Linked DNA regions of Homo sapiens: region 1 is linked to region 2. Evidence: fine-mapped expression QTL. A gene starts in region 2. The other region holds a variant in brackets. All regions are shown on one strand. Distances are between the middles of the regions. Region 1 holds the start of CFAP126 (cilia and flagella associated protein 126). Region 2 holds the start of DUSP12 (dual specificity phosphatase 12).

Region 1 (11,288 bases), 380 kb after region 2:
ACCATGCTGCCCAGGCTGGTCTTGAACTCCTGACCTCAAGTGATCCGCTGCCTCAGCCTCCCAAAAAGCTGGGATTACAGGCGTGAGCCACCGTGCCCAGCCCCCTAATCTCTCTTTACTGATAGTTGTACTATATTTACAAGATTGCCAAGAAATGTGGAAAAGTTAATGAATACATATTAATGGTTTATTAATATATTTAAATACATGATAAAATAATAGTATCTATTTCCAGACTTCATGGTCAACCTGTATATTGTTAAAGCACATAGCCAAGATATCCTATACTGGTGCCATTATAACCATCATTTATTCTTAGTTATGCAAGTAAACAAACTTAATTCACACCACTAGTGAGAGATACTGATGTCTTTTCAGTCATTTTGGTTGTTTAAAGCTTGTTCTTTGGTCTTTTTGTTTTGTTTTAAGAAATAGTGTTATAGGCCAGGCACAGTGGCTCACGCCTGTAATCCAACGACTTTGGGAGGCCAAGGCAGGTGGATCACCTGACGTCAGGAGTTCCAGACCAGCCTGGCCAACATGGCGAAACCCTGTCTCTACTAAAAATACTAAAATTAGCAGGGCATGCTGGTGTGTGCCTATAATCCCAGCTATGGAGGGGGGCTGAAGCAGGAGGATCACTTGAACCTGGGAGGCGGAGGTTGCAGTGAGCTGAGATGGTGCCACTGCACTCCAGCCTGGGCAACAGAGCAAGATTCTGTCTCAAAAAAAAAAAAAAAAAAAAAGGAATGAAAGAAAAGAAAAAGAAATAGTGTTAAATAGCTCTATGAATGCTGCAGAGAGGGCTACCCCATAGGCAGTGTGTGGGGAGTATACAAAGCTTGTTCTTTGGCTCCTCAGGAAGGGGATCTTATCAAGAATATTATTCTTTTGTGGTATTGTCAGTGGAAAGGAGAGATGTAACAGCAGTCTCCGAGAGAGGGAGCCTTAGTCTCAGGAAAGAAAACTGGATCAGCTATTTTAACTCTATAGAGAAGTTTTGAAACTATAGCTTTTACATTTGTAGCCATGCATCTCTTCAGGGGTCAGAACTACGCCTTCATTTCCTATAAGGAAATCTACAAAAACCAGGGTGTTTGAATAGTTCAAAATTTGGCCAGTAGCTTGGTTGGATGAAATCCTGTTAGCCCAGGAAATGGGGCAAAAGCCAGGTCTCCTATCCAAGACCCATCAACACCTGACCCAGTGAGGTGACATGGAGGGCACCTTGGAGCTACTTAGAAGAAACCTTAGTAGAGAGCTGATGGTATAACTAGAGACAGTGATTCAGGTGGTTACACTGTGTAATAGATGAGATAAATGCCCCATTTTTACTATGAAGGGGTTACTAATAATTTTTTCTGGTTTTAAAAATTGCCATGGGAGGCCGGGCGCGGTGGCTCACGCCTGTAATCCCAGCACTTTGGGAGGCTGAGGTGGGCGGATCAACTGAGGTCAGGCATTCGAGACCAGCCTGACCAACATGGAGAAACCCTGTCTCTACTAAAAATACAAAATTAGCCGGGTGTGGTGGTGCATGCCTAAAATCTCAGCTACTCGGGAGGCTGAGGCAGGAGAATCGCTCGCTTGAACCCGGGAGGCGGAGGTTGCGGTGAGCCGAGATCGCACATTGCACTCCAGCCTGGGCAACAAGAGCGAAACTCCATCTCAAAAAAAAAAAAAAAAAGAAAAGAAAAGAATAAAGGCAGTGAGAAACAGAGATGATAAAGAAGAAACAGAAAATCTTTCTGATCATGTTCTATCTTTGAAATTCTAGTATCCTTTGAAGCCCAAACTATACTTCCTACCTTTGGAATCTGTTAAATACTCCTATTAATTATAATTTCCCCACTTCCCCTTTTTTGTTTAAGGTAACCTGAATGAGTACTTCTTACTTGGCAGTCTTAAGCCAATAATAATGCTAAAATAATTGAGCATTCATTATGCATCTTGCACCCTATTAGCATGTTACATATATTTAATGCTCAAAACTAAGATTATCCCCATTTTACATGTAAGGGTACTGAGACCCAGAAAGATTAACTTGTGTAAGGCCACACATTTAGGCAAAGCCAGAATTTAATCCAGGCAATGTGACTCTAGTACTTATGCTGGTGGTTGCCTTCACGTAGGTCCAATGTACACATCGCCTATAGAGTACAGGTTAAACTTGTACTTCAATAGCAGATAATCTCAGTCCAAATAAAAGATTTCCTAATGGTTTAGTTTCAGTCATCAAAGAATTTAAGTGAATGGAAAAAAGTATCTTAAGGCATACGTAAAGGATGGGGCCTTTAAAGAGCCCTTCCAACTTTGGAAGAAGTAAATCTGGTCCTAGTAAAAGACCATCTGCTGTACCTGAAGTCAACCAGTTCATCTGAAGAAAGGCTAAAATTCAATACACTTTTATTAGAAGCTTAAAATTGCCTGTTACTACTGATATTACAATTTCCTAGTGAAATCTTTTTTTTGTTGAGACGGAGTCTCGCTCTGTCGCCCAGGCTGGAGTGCAGTGGCGCGATCTCGGCTCACTGCCAGCTCCACCTCCCGGGTTCACGCCATTCTCCTGCCTCAGCCTCCCGAGTAGCTGGGACTACAGGCACCCCCCACCACGCCGGGCTAATTTTTTGTATTTTTAGCAGAGACGGAGTTTCACCGTGTTAGCCAGCATGCTCTCGATTTCCTGACCTTGTGATCCACCCCCCTGGGCCTCCCAAAGTGCTGGGATTACAGGCCTGAGCCACCGCGCCCGGCCTGAAATCTTAAATATTAGAATTCACATAGGATCAAGCCAGGACTCCACCTTGGATTTTTTTTTTTTTTTTTTTAGACGGAGTCTCACTCTGTCGCCAGGCTGGAGCACAGTGGCGCAATCTCGGCTCACTGCAACCTCCGCCTCCCGGGTTCAAGCGATTCTTCTGCCTCAGCCTCTGGAGTAGCTGGGACTACAGGCGCGCGCCACTACGCCCAGCTAATTTTTGTATTTTTAGTAGAGACGGGGTTTCACCATGTTGGCCAGGATGGTCTCCATCTCTTGATCTCGTGATCCTCCCGTCTCAGCCTCTCAAAGTACTGGGATTACAGGCGTGAGTCACCGCGCCTGGCCTTTTTTTTTCTTTTTTTTGAGATGGAGTCTCACTCTGTCGCCCGGGGGATGGAGTGCAGTGGCGCAATCTCGGCTCACTGCAACCTCCACCTCCCGGGTTCAAGCGATTCTCTTGCCTCAGCCTCCCGAGTAGCTGGGACTACAGGCACGTGTCACCATGCCCAGCTAATTTTTGTATTTTTAGTAGAAACAGAGTTTCGCCATGTTGGTCAGGCTGGTCTCGAACTTCTGTCCTCAACTGTTCCACCTGCCTCAGCCTCCGAAAGTGCTAGGATTACACGTGTGAGCCACTGTGCCCAGCGTGTACCTTGGATTTTAGATTACAGAGAGACAAATAATCTAAAACGATCACCTTTCTCTCTAGAACAGTGGGTTAGAGGATCCAGAAACAGACCCAAATATGTTAGGGAATACATTAAAAATGGCATTTCAAATCAGTAGAGGAAAAGAAAACTTATTAATGATGCCAAGGCAACTAGTTAAGGCAACTGAAGCATAACCTTGTCCACATTCACTAAAATTCCAGAAGGAACAAATATTTAAATGTAAGAACTGAAGCTAGGGGTAAATTATTTTTAAAATATTGGAATTCACAAAAAGCCATTCAAAGCATAAGATCCAGAGCACAGAAAAAATGAGTAATACATCTGACTACTACATAAGTACTAAAAACATGTCCATGGCAAAAAAAAAAAAAAAAACCCACAGAAAAACAACAACAAAACAGAAAAACCACCAACAAAATGAAAGTAAGTGACAAATTGGAGGGAATATTTGCAACATATTTGACAAAGGACTAATTTCCTTAATATATGGAGTTCAAACAGATTAATGAACATGATCAACAGGCTGGGTGCAGTGGCTCAAGCCTGTAATCCCAGCTTTTTGGGAAGCTGAGGTGGGCAGATGGCTTGAGCCCAGGAGTTCAAAACCAGCCTGGGCAACATGGCAAAATCCCATCTCTACAAAAAAAATTAAAAAATCAGCTGGGTGTGGTGGTGCATCCCTGTAGTTCCAGTTATTCGGGAGGCTGAGGTGGGAGGATTGTTTGGACCTGAGAGGCAGAAGTTACAGTGAACCAAGATGATGCCACTGCACTCCAGCCTGGGTGACAGAGGGAGGACTGGTTTCAAAAAAAAAAGTCAACAGCCCAATAGTAAGTGGCAAAATACATTAAAGGCCATTTTCAGGGAAAAAAATTAAAATAAAAACAGTTTATACACATATAAAAACACCCTAATTAAAGAAATGCAAATTTAAAACAATGATATACCATGTTGGGTGGGTGTGGTGGCTCGTGCCTGTAATCTCAACACTTCCAGAGGTCGAAGAATCACTTGAGGCCATGAATTCAAGACAAGAGGAACAATATAGTTAAGACCCTATCTCTTAAAAAAAATTTGTTTTTTTAAATTAGCTGGGCATGGTAGCTCATGCCTATACTCCCAACTACTTGGGAGGCTAAGGTGGGAGGATTGCTTGACCTCAGGATATTGATGGAACCACTGCACTCCAGAGCTTAGGCGGCAGGGAGACCGTCTCAAAACAAAAACAAAAAATAAAATTATATACCATGTTTAACCTACAGCTTAACAAGCAATATGATATAATGGTTAAAACTGCTGGCTCTAGAGTCAGAATACTTGGGATTAAATCCTGGCTCTACTCCTCACTGTGTATTCTCCAGTTTCCTTGGTTGGGTTGAGAACTAAATGAGAAAATGTAGTAAAGCAATTAGAACTGTGCCTGGCATGTATATAGTAACTGCTCAGTTAACATTAGTTCTACTAGTTCAATCAATTAGTTCTATTAGTTCAATTCTATTAGTTCAATTAAAATTGGTTTAAACTGAAAAAAAAAGAAAAAACGATGATGTTGAAAAGAAAGCAGAGAACTAGGCACTCATACGCCATCATACACCACTGGTAGAAGTACAAACTGGCACAATGTCTTTCAGTGGTAATTTGACATTATCTACTTATTTTATTTTATTTATTTATTTATTTTTGAGACGGAGTCTCGCTCTGTCTCCCAGGCTGGACTGCAGTGGCGCGATCGTGGCTCACTGCAAGCTCCGCCTCCTGGGTTCACGCCATTCTCCTGCCTCAGCCTCCTGAGTAGCTGGGACTACAGGCCCCCGCCACACGCCCAGCTAATGTTTTGTATTTTTAGTAGAGATGGGGTTTCACCATGTTAGCCAGGATGGTCTCGATCTCCTGACCTCGTGATCGCCCGCCTCAGCCTCCCAAAGTGCTGGGATTACAGATGTGAGCCACCGCACCCGGCCTATCTACTTATTTTAAATGCACAAACCCTTTTGACTTTGCAATGTACTTTAAAACATTTATCCTACAGATCACATATGTACATAAAAATACATACATACATATTCATAAAGATACATAGGGATTTTTCATTACAGCAATGTCCTTATTAGCAAAAGACTATAAATAAACTAAATGGTCATCCATATGGGTCTGAACAAACTATGGTGCATCCCAAAATGGAATATTATGATAAAAACATAATCCCCAAGATAGTCAAAAAGCAAATCAAAAAGCAATGTGGACAGCTCTCTCATTAGTGTTTGTATGCAGAGAAGATTTCTGGAAGGAGACACAAGAAATGAGTAACAGCAGTTGCCCTGAGGAGCAAGACTGAGAGTTGAAATCAAATGGAGATTTGCTTTTCACTGAACATCCTGTAAACATGAAATTTTTTCCATGTACATTACTTTTTCAATTGAACAAAAACTGGTTAACTTTTAAAAATGAGTGCAGTCATCATTTATCATTACATTCCTATCAGAAAGGCAGAGGGAGGCATACCAACTGAAGACAAATTCTAAGAGAAATAATGCTAGCCTATCATTGCAGATTAAAGGGCCAAAATGGATATCCTAGAGCAAAGATAGTCCTTGGTCCTTAAAGAACTCTTCTCTAGAGAGTGATAAGAACCACAGGGACTAAGCTCATGAGTTATCTTTCCAGATCTCACATTATCCAGGTATTAACTCCAGAGCCTATAAAACAAGAGCTGTTCTTCCCTCCATCTGCAGAAGCATAGGAGTGCTCTTATACTTGGTGTGTTGGTTAAGATGAGGATTTTGGGGGAAGAAGGAAAAGAGAAGGGACTGATGGATATACTTTATTTATTTTTTATTTTTTGAGACGGAGTCTCACGCTGTCGCCCAGGCTGAAGTGCAGTAGTAGCATGATCTCTGCTCATTGCAACCTCCGCCTCCCGGGTTCAAGCAATTCTCCTGCCTCAGCCTCCCGAGTAGCTGGGATTAGAGGCATGCACCACCATGCCTGGCTAATTTTTTGTATTTTTAGTAGAGACAGGGTTTCTCCATGTTGGCCAGGCTGGTCTCGAACTCCTGACCTTGTGATCCGTCTGCTTCGGCCACCCAAAGTGCTGGGATTACAGGCATGAGCCACCGTGCCCGGCCTGGATATACTTTATAATG[G/T]TCTCCTGGTCCTAATGATATCTTTGGGCAACTTATTTCTTAGTTTTTCCCTTTCATCTTGACACCTTATATATAAATTCACTTTACAATTCACAAAGCACAGTTCTACTTACTTATTAATTCTCCTAACCACCTCATAGATGGGTATTACAATACCATTTTATGAGTTTCAGAGGGGTTTCCTTGTCCCACACATATTAGGCTTATGTCCTGGCAGCCCCCCATTGAACTCTCCAAACCTGATCCTTTCCACTCTGTGATTTTCTCTCTTCATCCCTGCTCAATCTCCCTGCACCAGCACCCGATTCCATTTTATTCCAGTCAACACTAAACGCCTGTGTTCTTAGGTGCTGATTCTAGACAGTGACAGAGGAAATTTTTTAAGGACCAAGGACAAGATATGTTTTTCCTTCTGGGGACAGATTTGAGCTAGTTGCTTTTTAAATATTGTTCCTTTGTTATTCTGCCTGATAAGACAAAGTAGTGGGCCTTATAAACAGGATCTCACCAGGATTGAATACCTACTATGCTATGATATTGTCTAGACACTTTATTCATTTTATCTCACTTACCCTGTAAAAGCAGGCTCTATTATCCCCACAATACAAATGAGTTGATAGAAATTTAGTGAAGACAAGACAGTTGTTTAATGTCATATAGCTCCTATGTTCCCATGTTGAATAAGGATTCAAACCCCAGTATCTGGCTCTACAGCCTGTGGTACATTACACCATGTTGTCCAACAAGCATAGCTCTCAGGGTTACATGGTTTGTTAAAGTGGTTAAAAACCCCAATCAAAGGCCCGTGGAAGTTCTTAAGCAGGGGTAGGTTATGCCAGAAAAAAAGTAGTGGCTATTCAGCTAATTTTCTCACATTTACTCAGTCTTTCCCGTCTGTAAAATAAAAATGAATCTAAGTTCCAGAGAAAACAAATGGGGGCAGTGTGAGCCAAGGAAGTGAATAATAATAAGCAGAAGAGAAAGGCAGCCTCTGCTCATTGGTAGTCCCAGGAGGTCGGCCTTCTGCAGTTGCCAAGCAACGAGTGTAAACAGCACAAGATCATGGCCACTAACTACAGTGCCAACCAGGTAAGTTCCCATTCTCCATTTCTTTAACGTTTACTTTTGTTTTTCAGATTCTATCTTTGGACTGTCCCCTCTCATAGGATTCTGATCTTTGAACAGATAGCTGAGAGTGGAGTGAGATAATATTTTACCTCCTCAGGGATAGAGAGAGCCCAGGGGCGATCCAAAGGTATCTCTTGGTTAAATTTGTAGGGTGTAAACCAGAAGTTGGCAATTTTTTTTCTGTAAAAGGGCGGAGTGTAAAAATTTTAGGCTTTGCAGGCCAAGTGGCAAAGTCAAAAATATTCTGTAGCTACTTGCATAATTAAAGAAAAACATTTTTCCATAACATTTTTGACAAATTCAAAATATAACTGAGTACAATTTTTTGTACTACTAATGAAAATAATGGAATTTTGGGGGTTGAGAAAACATTTCACTTAACTGGGATTCAAAGTTAGTGTTCCATTTGACTGAATCAATTGTAAATGTTCATCTATAAAAATCACCCTTACTCTCAGGCCATCCCCAAACAGGCAGCAATATGGATATGGCCCATAGGCCATAGTTTACCAACTCCTGATCTAGACCAGTGCTGCCCAACAAAAAGAGTGCGACCCACAAATGTAATTTTAAATTTTCTAGTAGCTACATGAAAAAATTAAAACATAAAATTTAAATATATTGAATTTAACCCAATAAATCCAAATATTATTTCAACATTTAATCAGTATTTAAAAAATTATAATCAGACATTTTACGTTCTTTTTTTGTACTAAATCTCCAAAACCTGCTGGGTGTTGTAGCTCACGTCTGTAATCCCAACACTTTGGGAGGCTGAGGCACAAGGATCGCTTGAGGCCAGGGGTTTGAGACCACCCTGGGCAATATGGTGAGACCTCGTCTCTACAAGTAAATTTAAAAATTAGCTGGACATGGTGGCATGCACCTGTAGTCCCAGCTACCTGTGAGTCTGAGGGAGGAGGATCGCTTGAACCCAGGTGTCCAAGGCTGCAGTGAGCTAGGATCATGCCACTGACTCCAACCCAGGTGGCAGACCAAGATCCTATCTCAAAAAAAAAAAGAAAAGAAAAAAACTTAAAAATTCAGCATATTTCATATTTACAAAGCACCTCAATTTGAACTAGTCATATTTCAGGTGCTCAACAGCTCCATGTGGCTCCCGGCTCCATGCTGGACAGCACACATCTAGACCAAACAAATTACACCCTTGTCATAGTGACTTAAAGCCTACATGGTTGGTCAGGCCTTTGGTCTTCAAATCTAAAGAATTGTGCCTAGTCTTCATTTCCTGGGTTTGGGGCCTTGAAGTCTCATAGGGCTACTTATCTTTCTCTCCACAGTATGAAAAGGCTTTCTCATCCAAGTATCTGCAGAACTGGTCTCCCACTAAGCCAACAAAAGAGGTATTCCATGTTCAGTGCACCTACAAGATAGCCTCATGCTCTCCCTGTCAATTAACTCCTTTTAGCATTCTCTAAACTCCCATATCCTTCTCTGACCAAGCTCCCCAAATACTTCCCTTTTTCCCCTCACAAACCTTTATCTCTCCCACTTGTACCCCAGAGCATCTCTTCTCATGAAGGCTACACTCAAATTATTGCCAACGATCGTGGTCATCTACTGCCTTCTGTGCCCCGTTCCAAGGTGAGATACTATCTTCACTCCTATCAAGAAAGTCAAATAATTAAGGCACAGAACTGGGAGATGTGCAGTCTCTCACAGCCATTATCGGGAAAATTAAAGTTTAATCTAATTCATGTTGTAATGTGAGAGCCCCTGAACTTCCGGCCAGCTTACCCAGCAGGATAGAGTTGTGTTTAGCACCCTTCAGAAGTTCTTAAATTGATCAATGATCTGTATAAATGAAAGCCTTCAGGTGATGACATTTGTGCAGTGGGTACTCCTTTGCCACACTCGGCCTAAGGATGTGGAATTTAAGTTGGCAGAGTAAAGGGGATGAAAAAATTAGGCCTGCAAAGCCTAAATGAGGGAGGGGGATAAGGAAGGGTGGGAAGATTATGCTTTCAGTCTTGTTTCATAACCATGCATTCCTAAAGGTAAAGAAAGGAAATAATACAGAGGTCTAAGTCAGTTACTGGGAGTGAGAAGCCCTACTGAGGAATCCCTTTTCATTTTTAGGCAAATCCTTGGGGTTCCTTCATGGGCACCTGGCAAATGCCTCTGAAGATACCCCCTGCTCGGGTGACCCTGACCTCCCGTACAACTGCTGGTGCTGCCTCCCTCACCAAATGGATACAGAAAAATCCTGATTTACTCAAGGCCTCCAATGGGCTGTGTCCTGAAATCTTAGGCAAGGTATCTATTCTTCCCATCTAACCCAAAACCCTGTAGTCTCAATTTCTTTTCAACCTCAAAAAATGTCTATTGTTATGCCACCACTATCCCAGCATGGGGGACCTCTAACCAATTTGTCTTATCTTGACTAGTCCTTAATCACCTTCTGAGGCCTGAAGGGATGGGCTAAGGACATCATACCCCCAACAGTAGAAAATGATCTAATCTCAAGGTGGGGGAGGGTGGTTAGAGAAATCAAATTTAACTTTTCTTATTTGAAACTTGATCTACTGCCCATGGTATGGGGAGAAAGGGAGTTAGAATCCTGAGGTGCATTAGGAATGATCCGGGCCTGACCAGAGACATGACTATCTCTCCCACTCTTATCACTGACAGCCCCATGATCCAGACAGTCAGAAGAAACTCAGAAAGAAGTCTATCACAAAGACTGTACAACAAGCACGAAGTCCAACCATAATTCCAAGCTCCCCAGCTGCCAACCTCAATTCCCCAGATGAACTCCAAAGCTCACACCCCTCTGCAGGTCATACTCCAGGTCCCCAAAGACCAGCCAAATCCTAAGAGCCCACCTGGAAGTCCACGTATGCTAGAACTCTGGGCAGGGCCTAATCTAGCTGAGGTCCAGAAATACAAACCTGGAACTTCATATGGACCAAGTGGCCACACACTGAAAAACCCGTATAGCGACTCAGTGAAATAAACAAGAGCCCCCAGTCAGAACTGTGAAACAGGGAAATTTTGGGGTGGGAGTAAAAGCAAATTTGGAAAATAAACTTTTTTTTGTTGAATCTTTTACTGATCTGGATTTTCCATTCTTGCTATGGCTGCCTCTTGTAACACAATTAGGAGAAGGAAGGTAGGAGAAAATAAAGTAGGGAAAAGAACATACAGTGGTTTGGGTGGAACACATTTTTACAAGAATTGAGTCAGTTATACTCCAGAAATGACCAAGAGAAAGTTGGTCTGAATCATGGAAAAAGGGCAGAACCTCAAAGAACCAGTCCCTCAACCCTACCCACTCATTTTTTATCCTGAGCATGGACAACTAACAACTACAAAATCAGAAATAGAATTGAGTAGAGTATGTATATGTGTGTTTGGAGAAGGTGGGGAAGAAAAGGTAGGGAAAACCAAAGTAGAAGATACTATGCTTGTGTAAGACTTTCTATCTAAGCCCAAGTACAAATATAGTTTGAAAATTGAAGATATTAAAGTGATTGGAAGACAGAGAAGAAAAAGACAGTAAGTAGAAATTTAAGGCAGAATAACAAACATGATGCTCTGTCACACCCCCCACCCACCCACTAC
Region 2 (11,288 bases):
GTCAACATGGTGAAACCCCGTCTCTACTAAAAACACAAAAATTAGTTGGGCATGGTGGCGGATGCCTGTAATCACAGCTACCTGGGAGGCTGAAGCAGGAGAATATTTGAACCCAGAAGGCGGAGGTTGCAGTGAGCCAAGATCACACCACTGCACTCCAGCCTGGGCAACAGAGCAAGACTCCGTCTCAAAAAAAAGAAATTCAGAAGCCATAAATAAAAAAACTAACAAATTTTATTATGTAAATATCCTTCATTTTAATATGACAAAACATAAAAAATCTGATAAGCAATAGACTGAAGAAAATAGTTGCAATATATTAGATGAACTATTAACATCTAGAATATATAGAGGTCCTACAAATGAGTAAGAAAGAGACAAAACCCATAGGCAAATGGGCCTAGGAATATGAAAGCAATTTATAGAAAAGAAAACAGTAAATGGCTGGTAAATATATAAAGATGGTGGTTGATGACTATTTTCATAAAATTCCAATTAAACATTTTAGGATTAACATTTTTTACCCCACAGACTGACAAAATGTTACCAGTTTTATAGTATCTATTATGTCAAGGATATGGAGTAACGGGTACATGCATTCAGTTACTGAAAACCAAATTTGTATGGGCATTTTGAATATCAGCCTGGAATATCACTAATATTTAAAATACATTCTTCGAGCCAGGAATTCCACTTCTAGGTACATATTCTACAGAAAAAAATCAAATATGTATACAAATAAGTATGCACAGGATTTAGAATCTTACATAAAAATGTATTTAACTTGGCTGGAGTGTGTGTGTGTGTTTCCCAGGTTAAGTAAAATTAGAAAGCCAGAATCACAAGCCACAAAAAAGAAAAACTGATAAATTAGATACCATCAAAATTAAAATCTCTAACTGCTACAAATAATACCATCAAGAATGGGAATTGCAGCTGGGCATGGTGGCTCACGCCTGTAATCCCAGCACTTTGGGAGGCTGAGGCAGGTGGATTACCTGAGGTCAGGAGTTCGAGACCAGCCTGACCAACATGGAAAAACCCCGTCTCTACTAAAAATACAAAATTAGCCAGGCGTGGTGGCGCATCCCTGTAATCCCAGCTACTCAGGAGGCTGAAGCAGGAGAATCACTTGAACCCGGGAGGCAGAGGTTGTGGTGAGCCAAGATTGTGCCATTGTACTCCAGCCTGGGCAACAAGAGTGAAACTCCGTCTCAAAAAAAAAGAATGGGAAGAGTGGGAATGTGAATTGTGATGTGATACGGTTTGGTTCTGTGTCCCCATCCAAATCTCATCTCAAATTGTAATCCCCAAGTGTGGAAGAAGAGAGGTGATTGGATCATGGAGGCAGATACCCCCATGCTGTTCTCGTGATAGTGAATGAGCACTCATAAGATCTGATGGTTTTATAAGTGTTTGACAGTTCCTCCTTCACATATGCTTCTCTCTCCTGCCGCCTTGTGAAGAAGTGGCCTGCTTTCCCTTCTGCCATGATAATAAGTTTCCTGAGGCCTCCCCAACCATGCAGAACCATGAGTCAATTAAACCTCCTTCCTTTATAAATTACCCAGTCTCACGTACTATCTTTATGGCAGTGTGAAAATAGACTAATACACGATGGTTGCAAAAACCACTGTGAATACACTTTAAAAGCCACTGAACTATACACCTTAAATAGGTAAATTGCATGTTATGTGAATTATACTATAATAAGGCTGTTTTTTTTAAAAAAAGCAGCATTATCCGAAAATGTGAGTTTGATTATATGGTACCACTTTCTAGGCAAGACACTACTCATAAACAGTTTCCTCATGCACAACACGTGAATATAACTGCTCTACCTATTTTATAAAGCTATGGCATTCTTCAAATGGTATAATACAGTGAAAGGGTTTCATAAACTAGCCACTATACAAACTTTTATACAAACCATACAAACTTTCAAAATCATTATTAAGATGATTATTATAGAATACCTTCACATTAATATCAAGTAAACCTAAAGGAGAAATGTGGCTGTCATGGCACACTCCAACCAAGTTAAACACTTTTTTATGTAAAATGTCACATGAACTGCATTCTTTTTTTATTTCCCTACCCACTGGTTACAGGAGCAATAGGATGAGCTGCATTATTTAACTGGAAATGAAAAAGAATCTCATAGCAAAACAAACTAAATTTCACTCTCCTAAAAGATAAGAAAAAAGAGAAAGACACATACAGGAAGCCAACAGAGAAAAAGAAAGACAGAATTTTTAACCTAATTTTAAAATCCCTGATTTACCCTATCTTGTTACAAAGTTCAAATTTTGTTTAATACATTTTTTCTTTTCTTTTTTTCTTATTAAAAATTTTTTACTTTCTTTTATAGAGATGAGGTCTCACTATATTGCCCAAGCTGGTCTCGAAACCCTGGGCTCAAGTGATCCTCCCGCCTCAGCCTCCCAAAGTGCTCAGATTACAGGCATGAGCTAATGAGGCAAGAGTGCCCAGCCAATATATTCTAATTAGTTTAAAAATAAATGTTAGTCTTATATTTGAAAAAAATATAAATAGCCTTAAAGGAAATTTATTAACTTAGACCAGGGCTCTCAACCAGAAGTAGTTCACTATGTTGGATCAGCTGGTTTTTGAAAAATATTTTATTTTTGATAGTCTTATCTACACTAGAAAGATATAATCTTCAGAAATAAAGAAATTAAGAAATGGAGCAAAACACTAGTTAAAATAGAGCTTAAAATGCAAGAAGGAATAAAATATAGATCATAAAATAAAATTGTAGAAAATAAAATGTGTTCTCACCTGTCCATCCATCACTCCCAACAAAGCAGATTCCATCCACTGTACAGGTTCAATGAAATAAGATGTACATTGAGCTTGCCTCCCTGTGGTAAGCATGGAAGATGGTGTCATTCTCTTGTGGGCAAAGGCTATAGGTCCACTTCCTTCACGGTGATCCAGAATACTAGAACTTCGAAATAATGATCGCCTGCAACCCCCAAACAAACAAAAGCATTAATGACTTCCAAAAGGATGAAAACATGGATGAAATGTGCGGTATTTCTTTTTTTTTTGAGACAGAGTCTCACTCTGTCGCCCATGCTAGAGTGCAGTGGCGTGATCATGGCTCACTGCAACCTCCGCCTCCTGGGTTCAACCAATTCTCCTGCCTCAGCCTCCTGAGTAGCTGGGATTACAGGCACCAGCCACCATGCCCAACTAATTTTTGTATTTTTAATAGAGACGGGGTTTCACCATGTTGGCCAGGCTGGTCTCAAATTCCCAATCTCAGGTGATCTGCCTGCCTCGGCCTCCCAAAGTGCTGGGGTTACAGGCGTGAGCCACTGCGCCCAGCAAAATGTGCAATATTGCTTAGAGAACAAAATAATGTAACATTGATTACACTACTTAAATTTTCAATAACCCTTACAATCTGATTATTTCTCTTTTTAAGAATTTATATTCTTTCTGAAAACAGATCTGAACTAAAAATTTCAATTAAACAAAATCTTCCTACAGAAATTTAAGAAAATAAAACATTAAGTACTTTTCAGCTACTGAGACAAGATAAAATATCCAAAGGATATAAAATAGTTTACCTGCACTTTCTACACTTGTAGAGAACCTCATCTTTCAATCCTTGTGAAACGGTAGTTGGGTCAACAGCAAAGAGTTCTTGAGGTAAATTCTGCAATTCTATATGACATAATTAAAATGTATTTATTTGTCAAAATCAACTCTGCATTTTCAGATAAATTCAGTTAATGTCAAATTGAGGCAACAAGTGCTAACCTCAAAAATTAAAAAAAAAAAAAAATCAAATTCCAGTGTTGAGAAATCAGGCTAAGGTAGGAGAGGACAGTGATTTAAGTGCTTAGGTTCTGGGCACGGGCTGCCTGAATTCAAATCCTGACCCTGCCATTTATAAACCATGTGATTTTGAATAGGTTATTTCTGGCTAAATCAGTTTCAAAAAGAAACAATAGTTTCTCAGGGATTGCTGGAAGTAAGGTAAAGCATACAATGCTAAAGTAAATGTCATCTAGAAAGCCCATTACACACTAGCAATTATTACTTACCTGGATACTTCTCTGTAACCTTTTGTAAACGATATTGCTTATAAATTGCACTAGAGGTATCCACTTCGTATCCCATTGCCTGGTATAATTTCAGTTGCCACTCAAACCCCTCATTCATCCTGTAATGATAAAGAAATATAAAGTTTCATTTTCTTAAAATTATATCACAAAAGCATAATTATTACTATAAAAAAAGAACCCACTTAGCCTCTGGTTTGAGAATCTGGAGCTTTTCATAGGCTTTTTCAAAGGGAAGTTGGTCAGTCTTCATGAGAAAAGCAGTTATTATGGCCACACTTCGACTGACTCCTGCATGACTGAAAAAGAGACCTTTAAAATAAAACAGCAAATAGCAACAATTAAAAAAAAAAACACACAAAGCCCAGCCCCCTATTAATAGTAAAGTTTAGGCCCACTTCATTTTTGCTTCTCAAATAAGCCCATTGCCTCTGAAATATTATCAAGGTACAAAATAATTATTCCTTTTTCCTTTTGAATTCTGAACCACGTGAATCTATTACCTATTCAAAAATAATAACAGTAATTTTTAAAATTTTTATAATGGCTCAGAACAAATCCAAACTCCTGGCTAGACACAGTGGCTTACCTACGCCTGAAATCCCAGCACTTTGGGAGGCGAGGTGAGAGGATTGGTTGAGTCCAAGAGTTGGAGACCAGCCTGGGCAACAAAGTGAGACCCCACCTCTACAAAAAATTAGCCGGATGTGGTGGGGTCTGTAGTCCCAGCTACTCTGGAGGCCGAGGCAGGAGGTTCACTTGAGCCTGGGAGGTTGAGACTGCAGTGAGCCGTAATTACGCTACTACACTGTAGCCTGGGTGACAGAGCAAGACCCTATATCAAAATAAAAATAAATAAAACAAAACAAAAACAAATCCAATCTCCTTTCATCTTAGCATTCAGGGACCTCAAAATCTGGTCCCAGACTTCTTTTGATTTCATCACTATCTTCTTTTATGTGCTCAATAAATTTAAACGATTATTATACTCCAATCCAACCAAGAACTGCTTAGGGATTCCCATTTTCTTTTTTTGGGGGGAGGGATGGAGTCTCGCTCTGTTGCCCAGGCTGGAGTGCTGTGGCATGACCTCGGCTCACTGCAACCTCCGCCTCCCAGGTTCAAGTGATTCTCCTGCCTCAGCCTCCCGAGTAGCTGGGACTACAGGCGAGAGCCACCACGCCCGGCTAATTTTTGTATTTTTGGTTTCACCATATTAGCCAGCCTGATCTCGAACTCCTCACCTTGTGATCCTCCTGCCTCCCAAAGTGCTGGGATTACAGGCGTGAGCCACCGCGCCCTGCGGGATTCCCATTTTCTTTTTGTCTTTGCTGCAACCATCTCCTCCCTAGGCAAAGCCCAGGGATCCTTTAGATCCAAACCAATTCATCTCTTCATCAACCACCCGCCACCCATCCCAAACAAAAACATTTAACCCTAAATCTTTGTAAATCCCGTTTACAAGACACCAAGCAACCTAATCTGCATTACAATAATCGGGGTGGGTGTCTAGCTTCTCCAACAGAGCTGTAAACTCCTTAGGGTGTAGGTAATTTGTCATTTATCAGATGACACCTCCCCCGCCCTCTGCTGCTGCAGGAAGAACCAACTAAAGCATGAATGAATGAAAGCCTGCACACACCAGGGGCCCGCCTCAACCCTCCTCCTCTCTTGGAAACACGCCTCCTGCGGGAGGCAGCGGGAGGAGGTTCACGCGGCATGACCGCGCTCTTGTCCTCCCGACGGCCTCGGAAGGTAAGGGGCGACGGGGGCCGGCTGGAAGCTTGGCGGGGCACGTCACCCACTGACCCGGCCACTCACCAGTGCACCAACACCGCACGGCCCTCAGCGCGGGCCTGACCGATGAAGGCCACGCACCGGTCCAGATGGCTGAGTAGGTCCGTCTCGGGTTTGTCCAGCGCTGGCACGAAGAGGCGCCATAGATCCTCGACCCCAGGCCCCGCCTTGAAGCTGGGCTCCTCCGAGTCCACTGTTAGCACGGCCGTGATGCCCGCTTCCCTCAGGTGATCTGGCTCCGCGACGGCCGCGGCCCCACCGAAATACAATCCTGGCTGCACTTCCAGCATCTGCCCGGCACAGCTGACTCTGCTGGCGCTGGGGTTGCTGAGCTCGCAGCCATCACTCGGGCCCGGAGCCTCCAACATGGCCGCGCCCAGAGACAAGGCGGCTTCCTGCCCTACCATCGAGTAGACTCCGGCTAGAACATCCTTCCCCTGGGACTCGCCAGCCTCGGCGGCTCTGCTGCTCCCTCGGAGGACCACGTCGGCCGCAGGAATCTGGACTTATCGCTGAGGGGCGGAGCTTCGGCCCCATTCAGCGCGGCCTTTCCACCCTTGTTCCCTCTGACCCCTACCCCCAAAGTTGATGGTGAAGGATAAGCTTCCCCAAATACAGGGTTTCTCGAGCTCTTAGTATTGAAATTTTCAGGAAAGAGACATCAGGAGCAGCTGAACTCAAATGTGAAATAAATGTCGCACCAGCTGAATCAGAAGCATCATTTTATGCATTTGAAGTAAAATTTTTTTCAATATTATGGAGCCATCTTTACTGTGCATTTCATGATTATTTTTCCTTTTTCTGCCCAATTTCATTATTGGGGTGTGAATCCTTGTTGATGTTTACTGTCTATTTATTTTGAAGATACTAATCCTATATTTTTGTAAGTCAATGTCCTCCGGCCAGGACTACAAGAAACCAACTTTAATTAAGCAAGTTGGTTTTATTACTCAGTCATGAGTTATGGAGAATTTCAGGGCATCTCAGCACGAGGATGTTAGGAAGATCCTCTACAGATTTTGGGCTTTTATTTGGGGATTTTGGAAAGGGTTGAAGGAAGCAGGCTTTGCTCCAGACTGAATGCTGCAGGAAGATACTCAGTACAGTGAGTATATTTTATATATCTTTTGTATAGGGAGGACAGGTGAGAGAGATACTAAAGCTGTAATTGGTCAAGAAGTAGCAGCTATAGTACTGGTATAAAGATAGATACATCGACGTGTCTCTATTCTGGAACAGAACAAACCCTTGCGTGTGGAGTCCTAATTAGGGAAAAGGAGTCAGGCTGGCTGGACGAAGGGAAGCAAAAGGAGAAAGCAGACAAGCCATAAGTCTGCCTTTCTTCGTGGTCCAGGACACATAGCCCTGCTGTGCAAATAACTCACAATCTGCCTGTGCCCAGCCATCACCAGACCCTCAGCTGATAGAAAAATGGAAGTTAGTTCACTGCAACCCTGGCATTATTAGTACTGCACAAAGCCCTCTTCCACCCACAACATAAGCACCATTCTACAAAATCCCCAGCAAGCCTTTGTTTCCTAGCAGTCAGCTTCTCTCTTGCTGACCTGCCTGTTGCACCCTTGCAATGTATTTTCATACTTTATCTAATAAACCTGCCTTTCTTTACCTACAACTGTGTTGGTAAATTCTTCCTACCACCCATGTCACCAGCCCAGAAAGCTGCTAATCACCTGCAACACTGCATATATGTTAGAATAATCTTCAAAAAGAGTGCCAAGACCACACAATGGAAAAAGGACAATCTCCTCAACAGTGTTGGGAAAAACTAGATATCCACATGCAAAAGAATGAAGATGGACCTTTACCTTGGACCATACACAAAAAATAACTCCAAATAGATTAAAGACCTAAAAATATAACATTCTTAGTAGAAAACATAGGGGGAAAGCTTCATGGCCTTGGATTTGATAAAAATGTTGAAACAGGTAAGGGTTAATGGTCTCATTGTCTAAGGTGTTATCCGAACTTGTCTAACGACCGAGAAAACTAAGGAGCATGGGCACAAAGAGTGAGGTTGAAGCAAAAGTTTAATAAGCAAAAGAAGAAAGCTCTCCACAGCAGAGAGGGGAGCCCAAGTGGGGTGCCATTTTTACAGCTGAATTCAAAACCTATTATAAGAAACTCCTCTCATCTCTATAGTTGTTTGAGTAACTTCTCTTATGAATAAATCTGTCTGTGCAACTTCCCTTATCTTCTGCCGATGTGGGTATGTCTCTAGGCAAGCACAAAGCGTGGGTTCTCTTGTTTGTATCACTGTAGGTTTGTTTTAGGTAAGCCCCCCTCCTTCCTGTGCAAGTTCCCACGGAGTCCACTGTGTATATACCTGAAAAGGGGAGGAAAGTTTTTCCTGGGAGCTCGCCAATTACACGAAGAATGAAAAGCGTCTGTGCTGGACCCTACCTGCTTATCTGTGCAGGTGCAGCCTGAGTTTTGCCTAAGCTGCTCTATTTTGTTTGTAGCTGTGATTTTTCAGGCAGACTGCTTCTCCAAGGGCTAGCCTTAGCTGTCTACCTAACTGATTTTTCCTTTTCTTCTCCCTCAATTTTTTGGATAAAATACCAAAAGCACAGGCAACAAAAGCGAAAATAGACAAATGGGACTATATCAAATTTTAAAGTGTCTGCATATCAAGCAAAACAGTCAATAGAGAGAAAAGGAATTTGTATGGAATGGGAAAAAATAATTGCAAAGCATATATCTGATACGTTAATATGCAGAACATATAAAAAACTCCTACAACTCGACAACAGAAAAACAAGTAACCCAATTTTCAAAAAACTGGGCAAACGACCTGAATAGACATTCCTCCAAAGAAGATATACAAGAGGCCAAAAAGCATAGGAAAAGATGCTCAAATTGCTAATCATTAGAGAAATGCAAATCAAAACTACAATAATAATATCATCTTACACCCATTAGGATGGCTAGTATTTTTTTCAAGCACAGAAAATAAGTGTTAGCAAGGATGTGGAAAAATTGGAACGCTTATGCATTGCTGAAGGGAATGTAAAATGGTGCACCCACCAGGGAAAACAGTACGGAGTTTCCTCAAACGATTAAAAATAGAATTACCACATGATCCAGCAATCTCACTTCTAGGTTATATAGCCAAAAGAATTGAAAGTGGGATCTCAAAGATATTTGCACACCCATATTTATGGCAACATTATTCACAATAGCAAAAAGGTAGAAGTAACCCAAATGTCCATCATGGATTAATGGATAAAGAAAATGTGGTATGGGCCGGGCGCGGTGGCTCACGTCTGTAATCCTAGCACTTTGGGAGGCCGAGGCAGGTGGATCACCTGAGGCCAGGAATTCAAGACCAGCTTGGCCAACATGGCAAAACCCTATCTCTACTAAAAATACAAAAATCAGCTGGGCATGGTGGTGGGTGCCTGTAATCCTAGGTACTCGGGAGGCTGAGGCAGGAGACTCGCTTGAACCCAGGAGACGGAGGTTGCAGTGAGCCAAGATCATGCCACTGCACTCCAGCCTAAGGGATGGAGCGAGACTCTGTCTCCAAAAAGGAAAGAAAGAAAGAAAGAGAGAGAGAGAGAGAAGGAAGGAAGGAAGGAAGGAAGGATGGAAGGAAGACGGAAGGAAGGAAGGAAGGAAAGAGAGAGAGAAAGAAAGAGAAAAAGAAAAGAAAGAAAGAAAGAAAAAGAGAAAGAAAGAAAGAAAGATGGTATATGCATATGATGAACTATTATTCAGCCATATAAAAAGAGGGAAATTCTGTCACATGCTACAACATAGATTATCTTTGAGGTCGGGCACGGTGGCTCATGCCTGTAATCCCAGCACTTTGTGGGGCTGAGGCTGGCAGATGACCTGAGGTCAGGAGTTTGAGACCAGCCGTGCCAACATGGCGAAAACCTGTCTCTACTAAAAATACAAAAAAAAAAAAAAAAAAAGGCGGGGCCCAGTGGCTCACACCTGTAATCCCAGCACTTTGGGAGGCCAAGGCAGGCAGATTACCTGAGGTCCGGAGTTCAAGACCAGCCTGGCCAACATGGTGAAACCCCATCTCTACTAAAAATACAAAAATTAGCCAGGCATGGTGGCAGGCGCCTGTAATCCCAGCTACTTGGGAGGGTGAGGCGGGAGAATCACTTGAACCCCCTTGAACTCATGCCACTGCACTCCAGCGTGGGCAACAGAGCGAGACTCCATCCTAAAAAACAAAAATGAAAACAAAACCTTAGCTGGGCATGGTGGTGCATGCCTGTAATCCAGCTACTCAGGAGGCTGAGGTAGGAGAATCCCTTGAACCCCGGAGGTGGAGGTTGCAGCGTGCCGAGATCGCATCACTGCACTCCAGCCTGGGTGACAGAGCAAGACTCCATCTCAACAACAATAAAAACTTTGAGGACATTATGCTAAGTAAAATAAGGCACGACTGTAGATGCTGAGGATATAAAGATGTATGACAGTCTTTGCCCTCAAGGAACTTGGTGAAATGCTGGAGTGAAAGTAAGTAAATAGCTAATTAGTGTTATAGTAGAGGCAAGGGCCGTGTACTAAGGGAGCACATGGAGGCATCCAATCCTAATGGAAGGAGGGTAATTAGGGATGGCCTCCCAGAGGAGGTGATGCTTGATCTGCATCTTGAAGGATGAGTGGGAATTTGTCAGGGAAAAAGGAGGGAGATGAGGAAAGAAGTTCTAACCGGAAGGACCAACATCTTCAAAGGCACAAAGGCCAGAAAGCCCCATCGAAGTGTAAATGTGTTGTTGGAAAAGGGAGAAAGAAGGATGATGCAGATGGTGTTCACAGTTGCTTTCAGGACACTGGAAAGATAGGCATGACCAGATCATAAGGGCAACGTATGCCTTGCTAAGAAGTTTTAAATTTTTCCTAAAGATCGTGCAAATGCTAAAGAAGTTTAAGCAGCAGAATAATGCCACTTGATTTGTATTTTAGAAAACAACCCTGACTACAGTGTGTGGAATAGGCTGGGAGGACAATTCTAGAGGCAGAGTCTGGTTAAGAATTAAGGCAATAATTGAGTCAAGGAATGAAGGGTGCTGGTAGAGGAAACACAGAGGAAGGGAATGTGTTTAAGAGCGATTAAAAAGGCAGAAGGGAGGAGGCTTAGAGACCAAATGGATATGAGAGAGGAAAGAGGGAGGAATAAGAGATAACTTTATTTCTAGTTTGAGTGATTGAGTGGATGATGATTTCATTCACCAAGATGGGGAACAAAGGAGGAGGGACAGTTTGGAGAAAAGTAAATGTCATCATTGGCTGGGCTGGCTGGAGACTGGGATATGACCCTCAGAAAAGAGATAAAAAAGAGATCCAATCATCATCATCATCATCATTTTTTTTTTTTCTTTTTGAGATGGAGTCTTGCTCTGTCGCCCAGGC

The links.
Region 1: its variant is fine-mapped to the expression of DUSP12 in whole blood (TOPMed, PIP above 0.99).

The regions. Positions count from the first base shown.
Region 1 is chr1:161,364,218-161,375,505 of GRCh38, reverse strand. CFAP126 (cilia and flagella associated protein 126) reads left to right here and starts at 7,630. Exons shown (of 5, transcript NM_001013625.4): 1 at 7,630-7,664; 2 at 9,005-9,067; 3 at 9,228-9,308; 4 at 9,804-9,980; 5 at 10,356-10,773. The coding sequence starts at 7,638. The coding sequence ends at 10,541. RefSeq lists an enhancer at 9,825-10,327. The variant G/T (reference allele first, on the strand shown) is at 6,576.
Region 2 is chr1:161,744,776-161,756,063 of GRCh38, reverse strand. DUSP12 (dual specificity phosphatase 12) reads right to left here and starts at 6,278. Exons shown (of 6, transcript NM_007240.3): 1 at 5,919-6,278; 2 at 4,283-4,396; 3 at 4,080-4,198; 4 at 3,600-3,696; 5 at 2,803-2,989. The coding sequence starts at 6,262. RefSeq lists enhancers at 5,262-5,908, 5,970-6,479, 8,051-8,100, 8,201-8,280.